7 linked regions of the Homo sapiens genome follow. The protein of the gene in region 1 purifies or fractionates together with the protein of each later gene. This does not show direct contact. Each region holds a gene or a part of one and is shown in the gene's direction. Other genes may lie near its edges. The genes, in order: CHD4, SMARCE1, USP36, SMARCC1, NUMA1, ADNP2 and ZFHX3.

Region 1 (3,399 bases):
CCCTGTTTTGTTTTGTTTTTTCCTGAGACAGTGTCTTGATGTGTTGCCAGGCTGGAGTGCAGTGGCAAGATCTCTGCTCACTGCAACCTCTGCCTCCCGGGTTCAAGCGATTTTCCTGCCTCAGCCTCCCGAGTAGCTGGGACAACAGGCGTGTGCCACCACGCCCAGCTAATTTTTGTATTTTTAGTAGAGACAGGGTTTCAGCATGTTGGCCAGGATGGTCTCGATCTCTTGACCTCATGTTCTGCCCGCCTCGGACTCCCAAAGTGCTGAGATAACAGGCGTGAGCCACTGTGCCCATCCAAGACCCTGTCTTAAAAAAAAAAAAAAGTTCTCGAGAGGGAATTGGAGTAGGGACGGAACTCACAAATGGCTTTATGGAGAAGATGGCATTGGAATGAAGTTTTGAAGAATGCGACGGAGATTTTTTTGGTAGAAACAGAAGGGTATCTGAACAAAGGGATTAGGTTGGGCAAAGATGTGAGCCAGCAAAGCTTAGTATGTCTGGAAATAGCAGATAGCCCAGTTGAGCTGTAGGGAAACATTTGTGTTGGGTGATGGTGGGAGGTAGGTTGGAACGAGAAAGGTGGACGGGCTAGAGGTCAGTAGGTGGGTTCTTGGCACCAGATAAGAGAGTTTGGACTTTACGCTATCGTTAATGGGCAGCCACTGAAAGTTTGTGAGCAGAGTTTTGATAGGACCAAGGGAAATGGAAACAGCATTCATAAGATTATAAAACTGTCATATAATCATGAGGTGTTAAGGGTCTGGGCTGTGATGCTGGTTGTGGAAAATGAAAAGGGTAAAGATAAAGGAAACAACACCAAAGAATTTATTGGACTTAGTGACTTACTGTAGGGGTCAGCAAACCTTTTTTTCTCCCCCCAAACCAAAAACGGTTAATAAAACCCTTTTTTTTTTTTTTTTTTTGAGACAAAGTCTTACTCAGTTGCCCAGGCTGGAGTGCAGTGGCGACATTTCCTGGCTCACTGCACCCTCTGCCTCCTGGCTTCAACCGATTCTCCTGCCTCAGCCTCCTAAGTAGGTGGGATTACAGGCATGTACCACCATGCCTGACTAATTTTTGTATTTTTAGTAGAGATGGGGTTTTGCCATATTGGCCAGGCTGGTCTCAAATTCTGGACCTCAGGTGATCTGCCCGCCTTGTCCTCCCAAAGTGCTGGGATTACAAGTGTGAGCCACTGCACCCAACCACACCTTTTCTATTAAAGGGCCAGATAGTCCCTTTGTGGGACATGTAGTCTCTGTTGCATATACTCAACTCCATCTTTGTTGTGTGAAAGCAGCCACAGGGGATACATAAATGAATAAGTTAGGATGTGTTTCAGCGTTTCATCTATGGATATTACAATTTGAATTTTGTATAATTCTCATGAAGTGGCATGAAATAGTCTTGTTTTGACTTTTTGCCAACCATTTTAAAATGTAAAACCCATTCTTAGCTCTTGAGCCATATAAAAACAGGTGGTGGGGCAGATCTGGCCCACAGGCTGTAGCTTGCCAACTCCTGACTTACTGGATTTGAGGTACAGAATGAGTGAGACTGAAAATAACATTTTGAGCCTGAGTCACTGAGAAAGTTAAATTGTCATTTAAGAAGAGAGGGAGCAGTTTGTAGAAAAGAATGATATCGAATTTTAGACAAGTCTTTTGGTATTTCTCACAAATCAGCACCCCTCCCACTACCGACCCCCATCACCATACACTAGTGGGATCAGAACCAGTGCTGAAGGTACATGTTTGAGAAGCATCAAATCATCTGCATAGAACTGCTGGCTGACACTAGGAGAGGAGAAGGGTATGAGAAATCTTCTCTTATGTTGAGTCATATGTTTTATGAATATATTTTTTAAGTAATTAAAATCTTTTCATAAATTAAGAACCAACATTCTGCCTCTTGGGATATATTTCAAAGAATCTTTAATACAGCTCCATCAGATGACATGTGCATGAGTGTTTTTGCAGTATGATTTTTGGTGGTGGGGGCCTAGAGGCAACATAAATGTTCAGCATTAGGAGAATGCATAGGTGAAACATGTATTCATATCATGGGGCATTAAACAACAGAAGCAACAAAATTCATGTGCATACAACATAAGAGTACCTTTTAAAAGGTATGTAGTGGGAGAAGAAAAAGCATTTTATAGATACAGAAAACATCATTCTGTAACTTAGAAACATACATAGGAAACAGAAACAGTTTTTAAAAACCTACACAAAAAGCCACAGTATTACTACATTAGAAAAGTTGCTTTTCAGAGGAATGGGAGTGAGATGGCGATAAGAGGAAATAAAAAACAAAAATATTTTTAAATAGCAAAATAACCCCTTTTTTTTTGAGACAGTTTCCCTCTGTCACTCAGGCTGGAGTGTAGTGGCGCGATCCTGGCTCACTGCAACCTTTGCCTCCCGGGTTCAAGCATTCTTCTGCCTCAACCTCTTGAGTAGCTGCAGTTACAGGTGCGCACTACCATACCTGGCTAATTTTTGTGTTTTTAGTAGAGACGGGGTTTTGTCATGTTGGCCAGGCTGGTCTTGAACTCCTGACCTCAAGTAATCTGCCCGCCTCAGCCTCCCAAAGTGCTGGGATTACAGGTGTGAGCCACCGTGCCCAGCCAAAACATGTTTTTGAAGAGTAGTTGATAAAGAGTAGATGATAAAAAGGAAGATGCTTAACTGTGTAACTAAATGAAAACATAATATGGGTATGTATATAGTATGATCTCAGTTATGTAAAAAACTATGCACAAAAAAACCTAAAAAGAAAAATATCAGGATGTATTTCTAGAAGGTGGGATTATCTGTTGTTAAAAATTTTTGATATTCTATTTTCTAAATTGAGTTTTTATCGCTTTTGTATAAGAGAACCTAAAGGGTAAAGAGTTTTAAAAATGAGGACATTGAAAAAGGGAAAGAAAAAAGTTACAAGGCAAAGTTAAACTACTTGGGTGTGGGAATGAGCTGTCCATGAAGTTCTTCATAGGTTCTTATTACCATCTGAAACAATGAGAGGTGAGCTGAGAGGCCAGTCAGAAGTGAGTAAAGTGAGTTATCAGTCGAACTCCCGTTTCCTCTTATCCCTTGTCCAGCTCTTAGAACAAGCTCTGGTGATTGAGGAACAGCTGCGCCGGGCTGCTTACTTGAACATGTCAGAAGACCCTTCTCACCCTTCCATGGCCCTCAACACCCGCTTTGCTGAGGTGGAGTGTTTGGCGGAAAGTCATCAGCACCTGTCCAAGGAGTCAATGGCAGGAAACAAGCCAGCCAATGCAGTCCTGCACAAAGGTAGCCAGTGGCTCCCCTGCCTCCTGCCGATTCGGCCTCCCTGATCTGACTGCATCCTAATGTACATATATTTGTTTTCAAACTTTCAGAGCT
Region 2 (3,500 bases), on another chromosome or scaffold:
TCTACAGGATACTTAAAAATTAGCTGGGCATGGCGGCTTGTGCCTGTAGTCCCAGCTACTCCAGCTGAGGCTGAGGTAGGAGGATCAGTTGAGCCCAGGAGTTCAAGGCTGCAGTGAGCTATGATCATGCCACTGTCCTCCATCCTGGATGACAGGGCAATAACCAGTCTCAAAAAAAAGAAAAAAAAAAGAGGGCATGTGCAATTATCCACACAAGACAATGAAGGCTTTTATTCAGTGAGAGCCTCTTCATCATAGGATAAATAGCTGTTCAATTAGATCATAACCAGAGAAGCCATTCCCCCAAAAAAGGAAGCAGACGACTAACATGCAAAGAAGAACAAGCCCAAATTGCTTAGACCTTATGTCCCCATCTGTGGTCAACACTGGGGCCATATAAATGAAAGAAGAAAACAAAAGCTAACAACAAAAACAGATAACTTAGACAGATGTAGCACAGATGTACCATATATAACCCTAAAGGTGAAAAACTCTTAAAAAGTAGAAAGGTTACAGAGTTTTAAAAAAACTGTATCTTACCCAGTAGTTTTAATTTCAGAAGTTTATTTCCTAAAGAAATTACTCAAAAGGAAACAAAAGTAATTTTTTTAACTTTTTACAAAAACAACAGTTTTTAGCTGTAGTATTTATAATAATGAGAATTTTAGGAACTACTTAAGTGCCAGACAATAAGGGAGGTGCTAAACTGACATAGCAGCGCAACATAGGCCTCTGTAACAGGGTTTCCCCTGTAACAAGGTTTTCTTAAGTGTGGTTCCTCCCTGTCTGGTGGGTCACTGAGGTGATTAAGTGGTTCAGAGAGGAGCGTTTGTTTTAATATGTATTACTAAAGAGAAAGCTCTTTTTTTTTTTAAGTGAGTTAGTTTAAAGAAAAATATTAAGTAAACGATAGTACAGGCTGTTAGTAGATATATGAAAAACTATGAAGGTGATAGAGCAAAGACTGAGATTAAGGAAACACTAGATAGCTATTAAAAATAAGCCTGTAGTGTGTGTGCAGTGGCTCACACCTGTAATCCCAGCGCTTTGGGAGGCCAGGATGGGCAGATCACATGGGGTCAGGAGTTCAAGACCACCCTAGCCAACATGGTGAAATCCCATCTCTACTAAAAATACAAAAATTGGCCGGGCGTGGTGTCATGCGCCTGTAATTCCTGCTACTTGGGAGGCCGAGGCACAAGAATCACTTGAACCTGGCAGGTGGAGGTTGCAGTGAGCTGAGACTGGGCCACTGTACTCCAGCCTGGGTAACAAGAGGGAGATTCTGTCTCAAAACGAAACAGAAGCATATAAACCAGACCCATACTGTATGAACTTGGGTCATACCATTACACACTGACAACAGCTGGCTAAGTGTAAACTGACAAAAATTAAATTTGGAATCAGACATTTATTTTTCTTCTATAAAATTACTTGAGGGCCTGGGAAACTGAATATTGTTAGAGGTGATGTATTCTCTGCTGTCATAATTTTACAAATGGGCATTTTCATTCATTTTTAAAGTGCTACAAGTGACAAAGTCACTGCCCAGTTCATATGTTGTTCATTAGTTGTTAAATGCCTTAAGTTACTACCAAGAGAGTGAAACATTGGGCAGAATTTCAATTACTGCCATCACATACAGCCTTCACATTGATTCCGAAGCCAGAAGAGACATGTTGTATCTCGTTTATGTTTTAGCCAAATCCTTCTCAGACACAACATTATCACTTAAAGACTGTGAGATAAATTACTACCTTGGCCAATGAACACATTACGTCCTCTGTATGGTTTTTATCAAGTAACTGCCCCAGTGCTCCCATGACGCTGGGCAGGTCCACTTGTTAGGCCAGTGAGGGCCATAGTTCGTTGGTAATTAAGTGTTAACATTGTTACACTCCTTTTTATGGTTACTGGTGACCTGATTTCCAGAACAATTTGTTCACTCCAGATTATGATGATGGCTTTTCAATGAAGCATACAGCCACCGCCCGTTTCCAGAGAAACCACCGCCTCATCAGTGAAATTCTTAGTGAGAGTGTGGTGCCAGACGTTCGGTCAGTTGTCACAACAGCTAGAATGCAGGTCCTCAAACGGCAGGTCCAGTCCTTAATGGTTCATCAGGTAAAGTCATAAAACATTCATTTCAATAAGATGTGCCTATACCACAAATCCCAGGTGATATGATTCCTACACCATGCCTAAATCTACCTGTTAAATATGTCAATCTAACCTGTTCCTGATTTGGAGAAGAGGTTTAAGGAAGTGGACCTTTCCCAGATGTTTAATAAGTTTGTCATTAAAAACTATAATATAGAACCTTGTAATGGAAAGTATATTCGTTAAGAAATACGTGTGAACTTAAGAATTTTGAGGCATCCTATCAATCTTTACTGCTATGCTAAATATTTTTTCCCAAGGAATTGCTCAGGCCTGAAACAGTATTCTTTAACATTTACCTATTGATCATAATCATTTCTTTGTGCTGCATTTTGTATTTTTTAAATCTTAGCTAGACTCATGTGATAAATGATCTAAAGTTCAAAACATTATTTGGTACACTGTTTGAAAGTATGGACCATTAAAAAATGAGACACAATTATGAAGCCTGATCCTGTCTTGCAGCGAAAACTAGAAGCTGAACTTCTTCAAATAGAGGAACGACACCAGGAGAAGAAGAGGAAATTCCTGGAAAGCACAGATTCATTTAACAATGAACTTAAAAGGGTATCTGTTTAATATGTTAACTATACTTTTATCACTATACCTGTTACTTTATTTTTCCTCATTCTTTTTTCCAAAATAGTGTTTTTATTGAATGTTGTTCACTTTGAAACAGGGCTAACTTTATTATAAACCTGTAGGATCCTTTTTTTATAAGATTGTTCCCATTCTCTGGCAAAATTGCAATAAATTTGAAATATCATAGAGTATACACATATCTTCTAGGCCTGTAAATGCTAGAGCCCTCTGATATGTTAAACTCCCATACAGTCATTAATTACTTTCATTTTATTGTGATTTATTCATCAAATGTCGTCATTAAATGTAATTTATAATTTGCACTTTGCATTCAGACAAGGAAATCTAGTTGGTAGCCCAAAATGTAAAACGGAAGCCTTATGTATACCCCAGAACTTTCACTATTTTGCCTCACCAGCTGCTCTGGAATATCCTATATTATACAACTGCTAGAGCTGCTGTTTTTTCTTGTAGACCCAAGAGTTTCAGAGAAGACCTAGAACCACATTTTTTTGGCACACACACACACACATACAGGTGTATAGATATATATATATAGTTTATAGGCAAGAAAACCAACTTTTGAAAGAATATATCTGGCTCAAAAATTATAAGGAAAAAACATTACGGAGTTCTGTTTTTTTCTGATTAGTTGTGCGGTCTGAAAGTAGAAGTGGATATGGAGAAAATTGCAGCTGAGATTGCACAGGCAGAGGAACAGGCCCGCAAAAGGCAGGAGGAAAGGGAGAAGGAGGCCG
Region 3 (3,500 bases), on another chromosome or scaffold:
AAGTTTTTATTTATGTCGATAACTGCAGGCCAGCACCCTGTGGAGGGCGACCGGCAATGACCTCCGTCCACCTCCCCCCTCACCATCCTCCGACCTCACCCACCCCATGAAAACCTCTCACCCCGTCGTTGCCTCCACTTGGCCCGTCCATAGAGCCAGGTAAGCTTTGGGCCGGGATCTTCTGGGTGCCAACTGGTTCTCCCTGTGGTTGCGTGTGCTTGGCTGGTGAGGAGTTGGACGAATCGCCAACCTCACAGGACAGACAAAGCATTGGGGCAGCCAGGAGGTACAGGGGGGCGTCACTGACCAAGATCCCCCTCTTCTGTGTTCCCCTGTGGTAAAGGAGCTTTGGGTGGTGAAGGCAGTTCGGCCTCTGCAGTCCTGATGTCTTAGTTCTGTCTTTGTTGGTGGTCTGTCTGCGACATCCTTGTGGTGATGTGGTGTGCTGGGGACTGACCTGTCCTGTATCCCTACCAGCCCCATGACAGTACTTCCCAGTCGAAGAGAAAGGCGAAGTGAGGCCTTGGCGAGAGGCTTGAGTGAGCTCGGAGTCCCGAGCGTTTTTTGTGGGACGTCTTGCCTGCTAGCGTCATGCAGGTTAAGAACTGTCTCAGGGCTCTCGGGTTCCTCTGCAGACACCTGCCAGAGATGCAGCCCCTTCCCTGTGCATGTGGGCCCTGGTCCGCAGGGGCTGCCTGCGTCTCTTAGGTGCCTCGAGTGGCAGGAAGTTGAGAGTAACTGGTAAATGGCTGTCTGGAAGCCGCTGGGAGTGGGGACGGAAGCAGTGAAAGATGGGGTGAGTCATGAGGCGGCCTGCGGGGACTGTACTGGTGGCCTCGGCGCTGGGTTCTAGTTCTAGAATCTCCAGTGCTACATGAGGGCGAGGTATGACTGTGCGTCGCCCACAGCCTCTGCCTTACTCTCCTCTCACATATACACACACAAGCACACCTCTGCCCTATACCTAGCATAAGATTTGTGTACGTGGGAGGGCCTTAAGTGTTTGGGTGTTTTTCGTTTCTTGCCTTATAAGCTTTTTTGGAAAAGATTCCAGAAGACACTTAGAGTAATCAAACATCGTGCAGCTGGCATGGCCCTTATAGTTTGTTTAGATGATGACGGGGGTCCTGTTTTCTGCAGGAACCCTGGGAGGTGGGCTTTGTGGTCCCAGCTCATTGACAAATGAGAACATGGTGGTTCAGAGTGGGAAGTTAATTTTCCTAGAGACACATAGCTGGCAAGAGGGAGCCTCACTGGGTTCGGCACTAGATCCTGTCCCGGACACGCCTTGCTCATGATTCTGCTCTACGCATCTGTGTCCCGGTTTCAGCGTCCTAATGACGGTAATGTGGAGGTGTCATTAGGCCAGCTCAACACTTGCTTTCCTTATGAGGCTCATTTCCTGCCCGGGAACACCCTGAGACTTTCGGAGGTTGGAAAATAAATCCTCACGGGATCTTTTTTTTCCTTACCATTTATTGTTTCGTGAAGGTTTCCTCCCTTAACACATTTGTATTAAAGATGTTTTTACATTAGAGCTCGCAAAAATACTTGAATTGCTTGGTGACAAGAAACTAAGGCATGGAACAATTCTTATTAACTTTGCCTTTTAAAAAAAAAAAAATTTTTTTTTTGACTTTTAAAATCACGTGTTGGCTTGCTTTTTTTTTTTTTTTTTTTTTTTTTTTTAAATCTCAGGGATCAGTTATTTTAAGTTCCAGGGTACATGTGCAGGATGTAAAGGTTTGTTACAGAGGTGCCATGGTGGTTTGCTGCACCTATCAACCCACCACCTAGGTAACTTTGTTTTTTTTTTTTTGTTTTTGTTTTTGTTTTTTTGGTTTTTTTTTTTTTTGAGACGGAGTCTTGCTTTGTCGCCCAGGCTGGAGTGCAGTGGCGCGATTCGGCTCACTGCAACCTCCACCTCCCAGGTTCAAGCGATTCTCCTGCCTCAGTCTCCTGACTAGCTGAGATTACAGGCGTGTGCCACCACGCCCGGCTAATTTTGTATTTTTAGTAGAGATGGGGTTTCACCATGTTGGCTAGGCTGGTCTCAAACTTCTGACCTCAGGTGATCCAGCCACCTTGGCTTCCCAAAGTGCTGGAATTATAGGCATGAGCCACTGTACCTGGCCAACTTTGCATTTAAATAGATGTTGAATTAATTGTTAGCTTTCTTTCAAACATACATGTAACTTAATGTGTATCTGAAAACTACAGGGTAAAAGCCTTTTCAGATTTTTAGGTGAAAGGGAGGGGAGTGAGGGTAGACAGAAGGAACAGCTCTGCTGGGTCTTTCAGAACATCCTCTCCCTGTTTCCTGGCTGTCCCCACAGGGCTGTGTCACCTGCTCCCCAATCATCCAGCCGCCTGCAACCCCCCTTCAGCCCCCACCCCACATTGCTGTCCAGTACCCCCAAGCCCCCAGGGACGTCAGAACCACGGAGCTGCTCCTCCATCTCGACGGCGCTGCCTCAGGTCAACGAGGACCTTGTGTCTCTTCCACACCAGTTGCCAGAGGCCAGTGAGCCCCCCCAGAGCCCCTCTGAGAAGAGGAAAAAGACCTTTGTGGGAGAGCCGCAGAGGCTGGGCTCAGAGACGCGCCTCCCACAGCACATCAGGGAGGCCACTGCGGCTCCCCACGGGAAGAGGAAGAGGAAGAAGAAGAAGCGCCCGGAGGACACAGCTGCCAGCGCCCTGCAGGAGGGGCAGACACAGAGACAGCCTGGGAGCCCCATGTACAGGAGGGAGGGCCAGGCACAGCTGCCCGCTGTCAGACGGCAGGAAGATGGCACACAGCCACAGGTGAATGGCCAGCAGGTGGGATGTGTTACGGACGGCCACCACGCGAGCAGCAGGAAGCGGAGGAGGAAAGGAGCAGAAGGTCTTGGTGAAGAAGGCGGCCTGCACCAGGACCCACTTCGGCACAGGTAAGGGCAGGAGCAAAGTGGCATCTGTCTACCTCTGACGAGAAACAAAGCAAAACCACAGAATCTACCCCCAAGTAGGTATGGTCTGGAAACGTAGTCTGCTTGCGTGGTTTTCTAAAATGTGGATTTGTGATCAGATGTCTCCTCTGGCTGGGTGTGGTGGCTCACACCTGTAATCCTAGCACTTTGGGAGGCTGAGGCGGGTGGATCACTTCAACCCAGGAGTTTGAGACCAGCCTAGGCAATATGGAAAAGCCCTTTCTCTACCAAAAACAAAAATTGGTTGGGCATGGTGGCATGCACCTATAGTCCCAGCTACTCAGGAGGCTGAGGTGGGAGGATGGTTTGAGCCCAGGAGGTGGAGGTTGCAGTGAGCTGAGATCGCGTCACTGCACTACAGCCTGGGTGACAGCTAAACCCTGTCTAAAAAAAAAGAAAAAAGAAAAAATATCTCCTCTGATAAATACCAGTGGATTGATCCTTGAAGCGACAGTGGTGTGGACAGTAGTGTCCATCATTGTATGTGCAGGGCCGTTCAAGGATGCTGGATCAGGTGTCCCGGGCCAGGCC
Region 4 (2,562 bases), on another chromosome or scaffold:
GGCCAAAAGTTTAGCTACTATTTATAGTTCAGAGAGATAGGAAGCATAAGAATTCTTGCTCTGTAGGAGCTTTAGTTGAGAAAACAAGAAATGAAAACTTGGATAGAACTTAGCAAATGAAGGCATATAGAACTTACCAAAGGTTACATGAGACTGTGATGTGCCTTAAGTACACTCTAATACTCTGGGAGGCTTCATGGACAGAGACATGTCTGACTCTTCTCTGGCCCCCAGAGTCTGGGACAAAGTAGGTGCACAGAAGAAAGACACTAATTTATCTAGGTATATAAGATCACAACAACTTTTTAAAATTATCTCCCTTAAGCTAGTGGTCAGTGGTTGTGTAGTACAGTAGGTACCTCTTTTTCTTGGCAAGAAAATGTTTGCCAAGCCACCCTGTGGACCATACATAAATGAGCTCGCCTATCAAGAGAGTTGACCAGTTTTCCATCCCTATTGCAGAGGTAGTATCACTGGTCTTTACCAATTTACCACTGTCATGTCCTGCTGGTCACCCATGTTTTGTACTTCAGGATTCCTTCCCAAAGGGACCTCAGTAGAGCTCCTTGAGAATGTGGAGGGTTTCAGGTGGAACCTTCCCACCTGCTGCCTGGTTCCTGCCATAAGTCAGTGCTCTGGAATTCTGAACCATGTGAATTGGTTCTAGGATACTAGGTAGGCCACACTGGATGAGTTGCTTCTCCACTTCAGCCCTTCATTTCCTCCACTGAAAGATGACACAAGGGATTAGATCAGTGAGCTTCAGAATGCTTTCAAGAGTCTTAAGGGTTTGGTAGAAACCTCTTGGGCATAGAGTTGGGTGAATTGATTGGTGAGCAATGCTGCACTTTATTTCATATGTTTTCAATTCTGACAAGATCTAGGGGTTTTTAAAACCCGGATTAAATGATCTCTCGGGTTCTTTTGTACACTAAAGCAGGTAAAGTTGAAATAGGAAAGAGTCCCAGACACTCATACTAATTGTTCCCTTCAGGACATGACCTAGTTTGGGCCAAAAATCGAAGGACTGCAGTTCAGGAGCTGTGGAGGCCTCCCTGGACTATCCAGTTTGTCAGCAACTGCCTCAAGTGAAGCTCTCTGGCCCTGGTGGAGACATTTATATAGCAAGAATTTATTGATAATCTATTTTGTGCCCAGCTAGGCTAGGGACTGTGGGGGCGGGGGGGGGGCGGGAAGAAAAACAAGACATAGAACTGTCCCAGGAAGGAGCTTATTTTTTAACTGAAGAAATAAAATTAGAACCCTTGAAATACAATGCAATCAAAATTAACTTCTGAAAGGGCCTGGAGCGATTCTTGGAAGGAGTTGGCCTGGAAGGAGGGTGGGGGAAATTCAGACACCTCCCACTCCCCAGCCACTAGGGTTAGGCTAAGCAACTTGAGCAGTGCCCTAGAGGTTCAGAAGGAATTGACTTGCATAGACCACAGTGGAATCAATGCCTCACAGGGTGCATTGGTTGCCTGCCACTAAGGAAAGGACTTCTGTGTCTTTTTTTCACTGAATAGGCTCTTTCCTGAGTCTCTTGTATTTCCAGCAATAACGAGTTACTCTTGGATATGTTTGCAGATCCCCCTCCACCACAGCAGCAGCCACCGCCACCACCACCTGCAGATGGGGTCCCTCCGCCTCCTGCTCCTGGCCCGCCAGCCTCAGCTGCTCCTTAGCCTGGAAGATGCAGGGAACCTCCACGCCCACCACCATGAGCTGGAGTGGGGATGACAAGACTTGTGTTCCTCAACTTTCTTGGGTTTCTTTCAGGATTTTTCTTCTCACAGCTCCAAGCACGTGTCCCGTGCCTCCCCACTCCTCTTACCACCCCTCTCTCTGACACTTTTTGTGTTGGGTCCTCAGCCAACACTCAAGGGGAAACCTGTAGTGACAGTGTGCCCTGGTCATCCTTAAAATAACCTGCATCTCCCCTGTCCTGGTGTGGGAGTAAGCTGACAGTTTCTCTGCAGGTCCTGTCAACTTTAGCATGCTATGTCTTTACCATTTTTGCTCTCTTGCAGTTTTTTGCTTTGTCTTATGCTTCTATGGATAATGCTATATAATCATTATCTTTTTATCTTTCTGTTATTATTGTTTTAAAGGAGAGCATCCTAAGTTAATAGGAACCAAAAAATAATGATGGGCAGAAGGGGGGGAATAGCCACAGGGGACAAACCTTAAGGCATTATAAGTGACCTTATTTCTGCTTTTCTGAGCTAAGAATGGTGCTGATGGTAAAGTTTGAGACTTTTGCCACACACAAATTTGTGAAAATTAAACGAGATGTGGAAGGAGAACCTCAGTGATTTTATTCCCTAGTGAGGCCTCTGAGGGCCTCCACACTGCCTGGCAGAACATACCACTGAACTAGTATGTGCTAGAGGAGGGCACAAACATCCGCTCCTTCCCTAGGCCTGCTGGCTCTGGTTTTCTATGCAGATGATTCATTGGATTGGGGGTGAGTGTTTTGTTTTTCTGGGGGCAGTGTGAGCTTTGAGGGTTGGAATATTGGGAGGCATTCCTTAGTTTCCTCAACTAGCCTGGAAAGTTAGG
Region 5 (3,500 bases), on another chromosome or scaffold:
CTCATTCAGGCCCTGCCAAGCAGCCTGGGCAGCAGGCTGTTCCGTAATTGGAGGCCAGAGAAAGGGCCTGAGTTTATTCTAGGAACACTGGGGATCCTGGTCTGGGAAACCCCATGATGGGTGGACATCCAGGATGAACATCCAGGGGAAGTCCTCCTGAGTCTTCTGTCCTCCTCTTCCCTCCCCAGGTGGAAGAACTGAGTAAGAAACTGGCTGACTCTGACCAAGCCAGCAAGGTGCAGCAGCAGAAGCTGAAGGTGGGGCAGCTGGGGGAATGGGTCTGGCCTCTGGACAAGGGAGGGAAGCTATTCTCTAAGCTCTGGGGCCGTGGGGGGTGTCGGGGCAGAAGAGGGGCACCCTGCATTCCAGGTAGCCCTCCTAGGAAGCCTGTGGCTTAGAAGCCCCTGCATGTGTCTTCTGGGAGCTCTCGAGAGACAACCAGGGTGGTTCCCATCTCTCAACTGTCACTGTCCACTTCAGCAGCTACTAGTCACGTGTGGTTATTGAAATTTATTAAAGTAAATCCAGTTCTTCAATCACACTAGCTACACTGTGCCCCTGTTCAGTAGCTACATGTGGTTAGTGGCTGCTGTATTGGACAGCGCAGATACAGAACATTCCACCATTGCATAAAGTTCTTTTGGACAATGTAAGTCTAGATAGTCTGGGCAGGGAAAGAACGAGAGTGTCACCAGTGTTGAATATTACAGTGCAGTTTAATAACATTCTTAATGCTTTCAACTGTGTCACCTTCTTTGGTTTAATACTTGCTTTTTGCAGTTCTAGGCTTCACAGCCTTCAGTCAGGGGCAAAGGAATTGGGCACCAGTGGCATTGGGACTCACTAAAGCCCTGGTGGCTCCTAGGAGTTGTTGGGAGCTCAGAGCTTCATTTCTCCTGCTCACCTTCATACCATGGTGCCACAGCATGTCTTGATTGCAATAAACAAATGTTTATTCTACTCCTTGTGGGGCCTGTCCTATGTTAGGAGAGGCAAAGGGGGGATGCTTCTATCTACAGCAAAGCACTTGTTGGCCTTGCAGATGGACAGAGAATCAGGCCCTGCTCTTAAGGAGTTATGGTCTGGACAGGAGGCAGTGTGGGCATCATAAATAAGCCCCCATGGGCTTTTGGAGTTAGGTGGACCAAATCTTACTCTGCCATTTAGTCACTGTTACTCTGGTCAATTTGCTTAAATCTCTGAACTCAGTTTCCTCCTCTGAAAAGAGGGTGAAGTGACTTCTCAGAGTGGCTTTGAGGAGAAACAAGTTCCCCTGTCCTAAGAGAGCTCACATGCCAAGTGCCTTAGAGTAAGGCTCTGCACCTGGGTGTTCCCTGAGGATTGGTTCCCTTCCTCCTACGGGAGATTGTGCATGCAAAGAGGGTGTGACACTTTGTGTCTGGTCTCAAAGAAGGCAAAGATAGGGCAGGAGCTGGTCAGGGAAAGGCCACTACGGATGTGGACTGAAGGGCATGTGGGCTTCAGGTTTAGTAGACTGTAGTCGGGCAGAGAGTATTTGGGGTGGTGTGGTTTTCTTCCGCTTCCTAAGAAAGTGCAGGAGTCTGAAGCACCTGTGGAGCCCCAGTGGCTGGTGCAGATAAGCGGACTTGGGTAGAGCGGCCAGACCAGCTTTCCTGAGTGGCCTTTCTTCTCAGGCTGTCCAGGCTCAGGGAGGCGAGAGCCAGCAGGAGGCCCAGCGCCTCCAGGCCCAGCTGAATGAACTGCAAGCCCAGTTGAGCCAGAAGGAGCAGGCAGCTGAGCACTATAAGCTGCAGGTAAGGAGCCCAGCCCCAGCCCATGCCACCTTCCTCCTGCCCTTCAACCTCTACCCCACCCACCCACCCTCTCTGCCCACAGATGGAGAAAGCCAAAACACATTATGATGCCAAGAAGCAGCAGAACCAAGAGCTGCAGGAGCAGCTGCGGAGCCTGGAGCAGCTGCAGAAGGAAAACAAAGAGCTGCGAGCTGAAGCTGAACGGCTGGGCCATGAGCTACAGCAGGCTGGGCTGAAGACCAAGGAGGCTGAACAGACCTGCCGCCACCTTACTGCCCAGGTGCGCAGCCTGGAGGCACAGGTAAGAATTTGGCTGGCAGACTCACCTCACTCCTATTCCACTGGACCCCTGTGCCCTCTCCTCCTAGGCCACTGCTGCCTTAGGCTTTTCTTCACTCTCCCCCTGGCCCTCTCCTTCTCAGGTTGCCCATGCAGACCAGCAGCTTCGAGACCTGGGCAAATTCCAGGTGGCAACTGATGCTTTAAAGAGCCGTGAGCCCCAGGCTAAGCCCCAGCTGGACTTGAGTATTGACAGCCTGGATCTGAGCTGCGAGGAGGGGACCCCACTCAGTATCACCAGGTCAGGAGGCAGCCTTCCTCCCTATGTCTGTTTATGGAGTGCCTGCTGTTTATCAGGCTGTATCCTAGTGAGATAAATAAGATGTGATCTAAATTTATTCTTAGAGAAGAATAACGAAAAACGGGTATTATACCAGATATCTATTTAGGGCACAGTTGGAATAAAAAGCAAGTGGTCAAGAAAGGCTTCGTGGAAGCTATCGCTCCTGCTGAGTCTTGAAAGCATCCATAGGTGTGTGTGCCAGGTTGACGAGAAGAGCAGTGTGAACAGAGGCTGTGAAAGAGCCTGACTAAGCTGAGATGTGAGGCCAGGAAGGCCCATTGGAGACCGACTATTAAGACTTGATCCTAAAGGCATTGAGGAAACCTTGGTGGCTGTAATTGAAAGGTTTAGGAGAAAAAAAAAGGAACCTTGGAAGAATTTGAAACTGAAGAGTACATGGTTAATTTGCATCTTAAAAAGATTATTCTAATAGCTAGTATAGAAGTTAAGACTGGAAAAATGTTTTTATTAAACACTTACATTTACTTATTTTGTGCTAGACATAAAGCACTCATGACAATTATACCTGATTTGTCCCCCAACAACCCTCTGAGGTAGGTTTATTCTGTCTCCTTTAACAGATGAATCTGGGGCATAGAGGGGCAGTCACTTGCCCAAGGTTCCCCAGTGGTAGAGCTGGGGTTTGACCCTGGGCAGCCTGGCCTGAGTTCTTGGCTTGTCACCACTCATCTTCCTCTGTCAGTGCCATGATGAGTCTAGGTGAGAGGAGATGAAGCAGACCAGGGAAAGGACATGAGCATGGAGTGGGGTGTGGTTAGGAGCTGTTCAGGAAGCTTGGTGATTGGGCTCGCCAAGCAGGACGACATTGGATTATGCCCACGTTCATGGCTTGGGGGCCTGAGTGGGGGGCGTTCCTATTCACTGAAATGGGAGATGCAGGAGGAAGAACAGAGAAGTGGGCTTAGATTGGGACGTGTTTGCTGTGAAGCAGCCATGGGCATCTGGTGGGGATGGGACATCTGGGTCTGGGCATTGCCACTATGAGGAGCTATTAGGAGAAGCCAGGGGAGTGGACTGAAAGGAAGGCCCAGGTCAAGTGCTTTCCTTGGTACCTCTGAAAAATCAGAGAGATGGGCTGCTTG
Region 6 (3,500 bases), on another chromosome or scaffold:
TGTTATACATTTTTTCTTCCACATGTTAGAAATCTTACAATATGTTGTTACTTTTATTTTAAACTGTAAAAAAGAAAAAAATTATATTGATCTACATGTCATTGATGATAGTCTTCATCCCTTTGCGTAGATGTGTATTTCCATCTCGAGTCATTTCCTCTGCCTCCTGAAGGACTTCATATTTTGTAGTGCTGATGTGCTTAATTAACTCACTATACTTTCTCTCTAAAAAAAAGTTGTCTTTTAGGAAGGAAGAGATTTTTGCTAGGTGTGGAATGCTATTTTTTTCCCCTTTTTATATTTTAAAGATTTCACTCTTGTCTTCTGGCTGGCATTTTTTCCAACAATATGTTTTCTGTCATTTTTGTTCCTCTCTGTATTTTTAATACTTTGACTATAATGTGCCTTGGTTTGGTTTTCTTTGTGTGTCTTTTGCTTAGAGTCTGGTGAGCTTCTTGATTTTGTGGGTTTATAGTTCTCATCAGATTTGGAAAATTTTGTGGCATCATTTCTTCAACTAGTTTTTCTTCCCCTCACCCGTTTGTCCCTGATACTCAATTACACACACAGTAGTTCCCCCGTATCCTCAGTTTTGCTCTCCACAGTCAACCACGGTTTGAAAATATTATATGGAAAATTCCAGAAATAAACAATTCATCTGTTTTAAGTTCCATGGCATTCTGAGTTGTCTTCATCTTGTCACGTGAGGCGCCACACAGGCATCGTGTCATCGCATGCCACCACAAGAAGGGTGAGCACAGGATGTAAGATACTTTGAGAGACCACATTCACAAAACTTTTATTACTGTATATTGTTACAATTGTTCTAGTTTATTATTGTTGTTAATATCTTCGTGTACCAACTTCCTGTACCAAATCTAATTTATAAGTTGTATTTTATTGTAGGTATGTCTGTATAGGAAAAAACGTAGTATATGTAGCGTTTGGCACTGTCCACAGTGTCAGCATCCACTGGGGTCTTGGAACATGTCCTTTGCAGATAAGGGGGGACTCCTGTATATTAGGCTCCTTGATACTGTCCCATAGCTCATTGATGCCGTTGTTGGGGTTTTTTCAGTTTTTTTTTTTTTTTTTTTTTAACCATTCCCTCTTTCATTTTGTGTATTTCTCTTGCTTTATCTTCAGATTTACCAGTCTTTTCTTCGGCAGCATCTAATCTGCTCTTAATCCCATGCAGTATATTTTTCATGTTAGTGCATTTTTCATTCATGGAAGTGCAATTTACCATCCATCTTTCACTTTCTTTCACTTCTCTCGTTGCGTTCATGTTGTTCTCCTGGTTTGGGGTCATATTTTTCTGCTGCTTTGTATGACTGGAAGTTTTTGTTTTTTGTTTTTTGACTGGCAGTTTTTGACTACACACTGGACATTGTGTTTATGGGTGCTAGAGTTTGTTGTTTCCTTTAAATATATTTGGGCTTTGTTCTAGAACATGTTTAAGACACTTGGAATTTTTAAGCATTGCTAGAGTGGGTCTGGAGAGCCTGGGACTGTGGAGACAGACCTTGCTGTGAAGGCTTGACTTATGTCACTGTATTAAGGGGTCATTCCCCTCTCCCGGTGGACTCTGGCATTTTGATAGTTGTTTTACCTTCTCCTTTCACTAGTTCCCACTAGTGAGCCAGTAGAAAAGTCCCACTGGTTTTCTCACACATGAGAGCCTCAGTGCTCAGAAAAAGTCTTCAGGAGACCCTGTGCAAATTTATCACAAGGTCAATATGGCAGGATGCCCCTTTTTAATAGTAGCTTACTTCTTTTGTCTATTTTGAAATAGTGAATTCTTGCTTTCTATCAGGTGATAATGACTTCATAATTACTGTGGGGCTCTTGTTAATTCCAGCCTTCTTTATTCATTTCTGCTGCTCTAGCAGCATCTTTTAATTGGGCTTAGATTCTTGTGTGTGCTGGTTTTGAAGATGTACTGACAGTTCCTTTGTGTTTCCTAGTGTTTATGCTTATTTCTGTTTGTTTCAGATATGTTTGCTCTTTGTTGGAATCAGAATAAAGGACCTGTGTGTTGTATACTTTATCTTTTAAGATAGTTCTGAAAATAACCTAATTTTCAGTAGAAATCTTTGTAATAACTTGGCCAGGTGCGGTGGCTCATACCTGTAACCCCAGCACTTTGGGAGGCCGAGGTGGATGGATCACGAGGTCAGGAGATTGAGACCAGCCTGGCCAACATGGTGAAACCCCGTCTCTACTAAAAATACAAAAATTAGCCCGACGTGGTGGCATGTGCCTGTAGTCCCAGCTAGTGGGGAGGCTTAGGCAGGAGAATTGGTTGAACACGGGAGGTGGAGGCGGCAGTGAGCCGAGATTGCACCACTGCACTCCAGCCTGGGCGACAGAGCAAGACCCCGTCTCAAAAAAAGAAATAAATAAATAAAAATAAAGAAATATTTGTAATAACTTGTCTTTTTCTTGTTAGTTCTGAATTGACTTGGTAAGCTACATACTAGCGTAGAGTTAAAGGTAATTGTATTAACTATTTTTCTGTAGCTTTTTTTTTAAAGTAATCATTGTTATAAAAATAATACTGTAATCTATGAATGTTTGAAAATGCAGGTAACCGTTTCTAATTAGAAAATGAAATTTAAAATGCCACATTTCTGTCATTCAGAAGTTGCCACCATTAACATCGTATTGTTAGCTGTTTCTGTGTGTTTATTGTTCTTACCATGAGATTGTATTGATTAGCTATTTTACCACTTGCTTTTTTCACTTTTCTCTGTTCTGTCTTGTCATGTATTACATATTCACCTTATTTAATATGCAGTCCATACTCAGATTTCTTCAGTTTTACCCAGAACTTTTTTTTTGTTTTTTTTTTTTTTTTGAGATGGGGTCTCGCTCTGTCTTCCAGGCTGCAGTGCAGTGGTGAGATCTCGGCTCACTGCAAGCTCTGCCTCCCTGGTTCAAGCAATTCTCCTGCCTCAGCCTCCCATGTAGCTGGGATTACGAGCACCCGCCACCACGCCCAGCTAGTTTTTGTATTTTTAGTAGAGATGGGGTTTCACCATGTGGCCAGGCTGGTCTCAAACTCCAGACCTCAGATGATCCAGCCACCTCAGCCTCCCAAAGTGCTGGGATTACAAGTGTGAGCCACCACACCCGACCCCCAGAACATTTTTTACACTCGGTTTATGTAAGCCAGGATTTGTTGTGGACCCTGTTACATCTAGTGGTTGGGTTTGCAGTGCTTTCCCTGACTGTTGGCCAGACCAGCCTCTTGTCCTGCAGAGATGCCCCTCCTTCCAGATGTGTCTGGTACTTTCTTATAGTGTTGTTTCAGCTTAGTCCCCTGTCCCCTGAGCTTCTTTTAAATGAGAAGTTCTACTGAAAGGCCCAGTTGATTCAAGTTAAACATTTTGGGCTAGAATATATATGATGTTCTATGCTTCTTGTGTCACTTCAGGGACCCCAGTCATATTTTGTTGCTTCAATACAATAGATGGCAGTCTGGTCTTTGTGTGCAT
Region 7 (3,500 bases), on another chromosome or scaffold:
TGCCAAACAGTACAGAGACCACTACGATAAACTGTACCCACTGAGGCCCCAGACCCCAGAGCCACCACCACCTCCCCCTCCACCCCCTCCACCCCCACTTCCGGCAGCGCCGCCTCAGCCGGCGTCCACACCAGCCATCCCCGCATCAGCCCCACCCATCACCTCACCTACAATTGCACCGGCCCAGCCATCAGTGCCGCTCACCCAGCTCTCCATGCCGATGGAGCTGCCCATCTTCTCGCCGCTGATGATGCAGACGATGCCGCTGCAGACCTTGCCGGCTCAGCTACCCCCGCAGCTGGGACCTGTGGAGCCTCTGCCTGCGGACCTGGCCCAACTCTACCAGCATCAGCTCAATCCAACCCTGCTCCAGCAGCAGAACAAGAGGCCTCGCACCAGGATCACAGATGATCAGCTCCGAGTCTTGCGGCAATATTTTGACATTAACAACTCCCCCAGTGAAGAGCAAATAAAAGAGATGGCAGACAAGTCCGGGTTGCCCCAGAAAGTGATCAAGCACTGGTTCAGGAACACTCTCTTCAAAGAGAGGCAGCGTAACAAGGACTCCCCTTACAACTTCAGTAATCCTCCTATCACCAGCCTGGAGGAGCTCAAGATTGACTCCCGGCCCCCTTCGCCGGAACCTCCAAAGCAGGAGTACTGGGGAAGCAAGAGGTCTTCAAGAACAAGGTTTACGGACTACCAGCTGAGGGTCTTACAGGACTTCTTCGATGCCAATGCTTACCCAAAGGATGATGAATTTGAGCAACTCTCTAATTTACTGAACCTTCCAACCCGAGTGATAGTGGTGTGGTTTCAGAATGCCCGACAGAAGGCCAGGAAGAATTATGAGAATCAGGGAGAGGGCAAAGATGGAGAGCGGCGTGAGCTTACAAATGATAGATACATTCGAACAAGCAACTTGAACTACCAGTGCAAAAAATGTAGCCTGGTGTTTCAGCGCATCTTTGATCTCATCAAGCACCAGAAGAAGCTGTGTTACAAGGATGAGGATGAGGAGGGGCAGGACGACAGCCAAAATGAGGATTCCATGGATGCCATGGAAATCCTGACGCCTACCAGCTCATCCTGCAGTACCCCGATGCCCTCACAGGCTTACAGCGCCCCAGCACCATCAGCCAATAATACAGCTTCCTCCGCTTTCTTGCAGCTTACAGCGGAGGCTGAGGAACTGGCCACCTTCAATTCAAAAACAGAGGCAGGCGATGAGAAACCAAAGCTGGCGGAAGCTCCCAGTGCACAGCCAAACCAAACCCAAGAAAAGCAAGGACAACCAAAGCCAGAGCTGCAGCAGCAAGAGCAGCCCGAGCAGAAGACCAACACTCCCCAGCAGAAGCTCCCCCAGCTGGTGTCCCTGCCTTCGTTGCCACAGCCTCCTCCACAAGCGCCCCCTCCACAGTGCCCCTTACCCCAGTCGAGCCCCAGTCCTTCCCAGCTCTCCCACCTGCCCCTCAAGCCCCTCCACACATCAACTCCTCAACAGCTCGCAAACCTACCTCCTCAGCTAATCCCCTACCAGTGTGACCAGTGTAAGTTGGCATTTCCGTCATTTGAGCACTGGCAGGAGCATCAGCAGCTCCACTTCCTGAGCGCGCAGAACCAGTTCATCCACCCCCAGTTTTTGGACAGGTCCCTGGATATGCCTTTCATGCTCTTTGATCCCAGTAACCCACTCCTGGCCAGCCAGCTGCTCTCTGGGGCCATACCTCAGATTCCAGCAAGCTCAGCCACTTCTCCTTCAACTCCAACCTCCACAATGAACACTCTCAAGAGGAAGCTGGAGGAAAAGGCCAGTGCAAGCCCTGGCGAAAACGACAGTGGGACAGGAGGAGAAGAGCCTCAGAGAGACAAGCGTTTGAGAACAACCATCACACCGGAACAACTAGAAATTCTCTACCAGAAGTATCTACTGGATTCCAATCCGACTCGAAAGATGTTGGATCACATTGCACACGAGGTGGGCTTGAAGAAACGTGTGGTACAAGTCTGGTTTCAGAACACCCGAGCTCGGGAAAGGAAAGGACAGTTCCGGGCTGTAGGCCCAGCGCAGGCCCACAGGAGATGCCCTTTTTGCAGAGCGCTCTTCAAAGCCAAGACTGCTCTTGAGGCTCATATCCGGTCCCGTCACTGGCATGAAGCCAAGAGAGCTGGCTACAACCTAACTCTGTCTGCGATGCTCTTAGACTGTGATGGGGGACTCCAGATGAAAGGAGATATTTTTGACGGAACTAGCTTTTCCCACCTACCCCCAAGCAGTAGTGATGGTCAGGGTGTCCCCCTCTCACCTGTGAGTAAAACCATGGAATTGTCACCCAGAACTCTTCTAAGCCCTTCCTCCATTAAGGTGGAAGGGATTGAAGACTTTGAAAGCCCCTCCATGTCCTCAGTTAATCTAAACTTTGACCAAACTAAGCTGGACAACGATGACTGTTCCTCTGTCAACACAGCAATCACAGATACCACAACTGGAGACGAGGGCAACGCAGATAACGACAGTGCAACGGGAATAGCAACTGAAACCAAATCCTCTTCTGCACCCAACGAAGGGTTGACCAAAGCGGCCATGATGGCAATGTCTGAGTATGAAGATCGGTTGTCATCTGGTCTGGTCAGCCCGGCCCCGAGCTTTTATAGCAAGGAATATGACAATGAAGGTACAGTGGACTACAGTGAAACCTCAAGCCTTGCAGATCCCTGCTCCCCGAGTCCTGGTGCGAGTGGATCTGCAGGCAAATCTGGTGACAGCGGAGATCGGCCTGGGCAGAAACGTTTTCGCACTCAAATGACCAATCTGCAGCTGAAGGTCCTCAAGTCATGCTTTAATGACTACAGGACACCCACTATGCTAGAATGTGAGGTCCTGGGCAATGACATTGGACTGCCAAAGAGAGTCGTTCAGGTCTGGTTCCAGAATGCCCGGGCAAAAGAAAAGAAGTCCAAGTTAAGCATGGCCAAGCATTTTGGTATAAACCAAACGAGTTATGAGGGACCCAAAACAGAGTGCACTTTGTGTGGCATCAAGTACAGCGCTCGGCTGTCTGTACGTGACCATATCTTTTCCCAACAGCATATCTCCAAAGTTAAAGACACCATTGGAAGCCAGCTGGACAAGGAGAAAGAATACTTTGACCCAGCCACCGTACGTCAGTTGATGGCTCAACAAGAGTTGGACCGGATTAAAAAGGCCAACGAGGTCCTTGGACTGGCAGCTCAGCAGCAAGGGATGTTTGACAACACCCCTCTTCAGGCCCTTAACCTTCCTACAGCATATCCAGCGCTCCAGGGCATTCCTCCTGTGTTGCTCCCGGGCCTCAACAGCCCCTCCTTGCCAGGCTTTACTCCATCCAACACAGGTGGGTTCTGCTCTAGGCGATTGTTTCAGGGCTAAATAGCTGCCCAGTCAGCATTCTGTTATGTGGATACCACCCAAACCCTCTGAGTGCTGGGCAGATGGGAAGCTTACCTTTCTAGTTCTTTAA

Evidence for each region.
Region 2: the proteins of CHD4 (region 1) and SMARCE1 purify together in Homo sapiens (affinity purification with western blotting; 3 studies listed by BioGRID, with this or other methods). This does not show direct contact.
Region 3: the proteins of CHD4 (region 1) and USP36 purify together in Homo sapiens (affinity purification with mass spectrometry; 3 studies listed by BioGRID and IntAct, with this or other methods). This does not show direct contact.
Region 4: the proteins of CHD4 (region 1) and SMARCC1 purify together in Homo sapiens (affinity purification with western blotting; 6 studies listed by BioGRID, with this or other methods). This does not show direct contact.
Region 5: the proteins of CHD4 (region 1) and NUMA1 purify together in Homo sapiens (affinity purification with mass spectrometry; 3 studies listed by BioGRID and IntAct, with this or other methods). This does not show direct contact.
Region 6: the proteins of CHD4 (region 1) and ADNP2 purify together in Homo sapiens (affinity purification with mass spectrometry; 3 studies listed by BioGRID and IntAct, with this or other methods). This does not show direct contact.
Region 7: the proteins of CHD4 (region 1) and ZFHX3 purify together in Homo sapiens (affinity purification with mass spectrometry, with the first as the bait; 3 studies listed by BioGRID). This does not show direct contact.

Annotation. Positions count from the first base shown.
Region 1 is NC_000012.12:6,572,981-6,576,379, reverse strand, and holds part of CHD4 (chromodomain-helicase-DNA-binding protein 4), read left to right. Parts: intron 1-3,110; coding exon 3,111-3,306; coding exon of another isoform or gene 3,307-3,309; intron 3,310-3,399. UniProt on the Homo sapiens protein: ATP-dependent chromatin-remodeling factor that binds and distorts nucleosomal DNA. Acts as a component of the histone deacetylase NuRD complex which participates in the remodeling of chromatin.
Region 2 is NC_000017.11:40,630,819-40,634,318, reverse strand, and holds part of SMARCE1 (SWI/SNF-related matrix-associated actin-dependent regulator of chromatin subfamily E member 1), read left to right. Parts: intron 1-1,951; coding exon 1,952-2,124; intron 2,125-2,625; coding exon 2,626-2,727; intron 2,728-3,394; coding exon 3,395-3,500. UniProt on the Homo sapiens protein: Involved in transcriptional activation and repression of select genes by chromatin remodeling (alteration of DNA-nucleosome topology).
Region 3 is NC_000017.11:78,802,815-78,806,314, reverse strand, and holds part of USP36 (ubiquitin carboxyl-terminal hydrolase 36), read left to right. Parts: coding exon of another isoform or gene 1-28; coding exon 29-159; intron 160-2,336; coding exon 2,337-2,930; intron 2,931-3,459; coding exon of another isoform or gene 3,460-3,500. UniProt on the Homo sapiens protein: Deubiquitinase essential for the regulation of nucleolar structure and function. Required for cell and organism viability.
Region 4 is NC_000003.12:47,587,332-47,589,893, reverse strand, and holds part of SMARCC1 (SWI/SNF complex subunit SMARCC1), read left to right. Parts: intron 1-1,587; coding exon 1,588-1,685; 3' UTR 1,686-2,562. UniProt on the Homo sapiens protein: Involved in transcriptional activation and repression of select genes by chromatin remodeling (alteration of DNA-nucleosome topology).
Region 5 is NC_000011.10:72,007,543-72,011,042, reverse strand, and holds part of NUMA1 (nuclear mitotic apparatus protein 1), read left to right. Parts: intron 1-188; coding exon 189-257; intron 258-1,655; coding exon 1,656-1,775; intron 1,776-1,857; coding exon 1,858-2,076; intron 2,077-2,197; coding exon 2,198-2,355; intron 2,356-2,842; exon of another isoform or gene 2,843-2,897; coding exon of another isoform or gene 2,898-2,951; exon of another isoform or gene 2,952-3,500. UniProt on the Homo sapiens protein: Microtubule (MT)-binding protein that plays a role in the formation and maintenance of the spindle poles and the alignement and the segregation of chromosomes during mitotic cell division.
Region 6 is NC_000018.10:80,126,262-80,129,761, forward strand, and holds part of ADNP2 (activity-dependent neuroprotector homeobox protein 2), read left to right. Parts: intron 1-3,500. UniProt on the Homo sapiens protein: May be involved in transcriptional regulation. May play a role in neuronal function; perhaps involved in protection of brain tissues from oxidative stress. May be involved in erythroid differentiation.
Region 7 is NC_000016.10:72,793,129-72,796,628, reverse strand, and holds part of ZFHX3 (zinc finger homeobox protein 3), read left to right. Parts: coding exon 1-3,374; intron 3,375-3,500.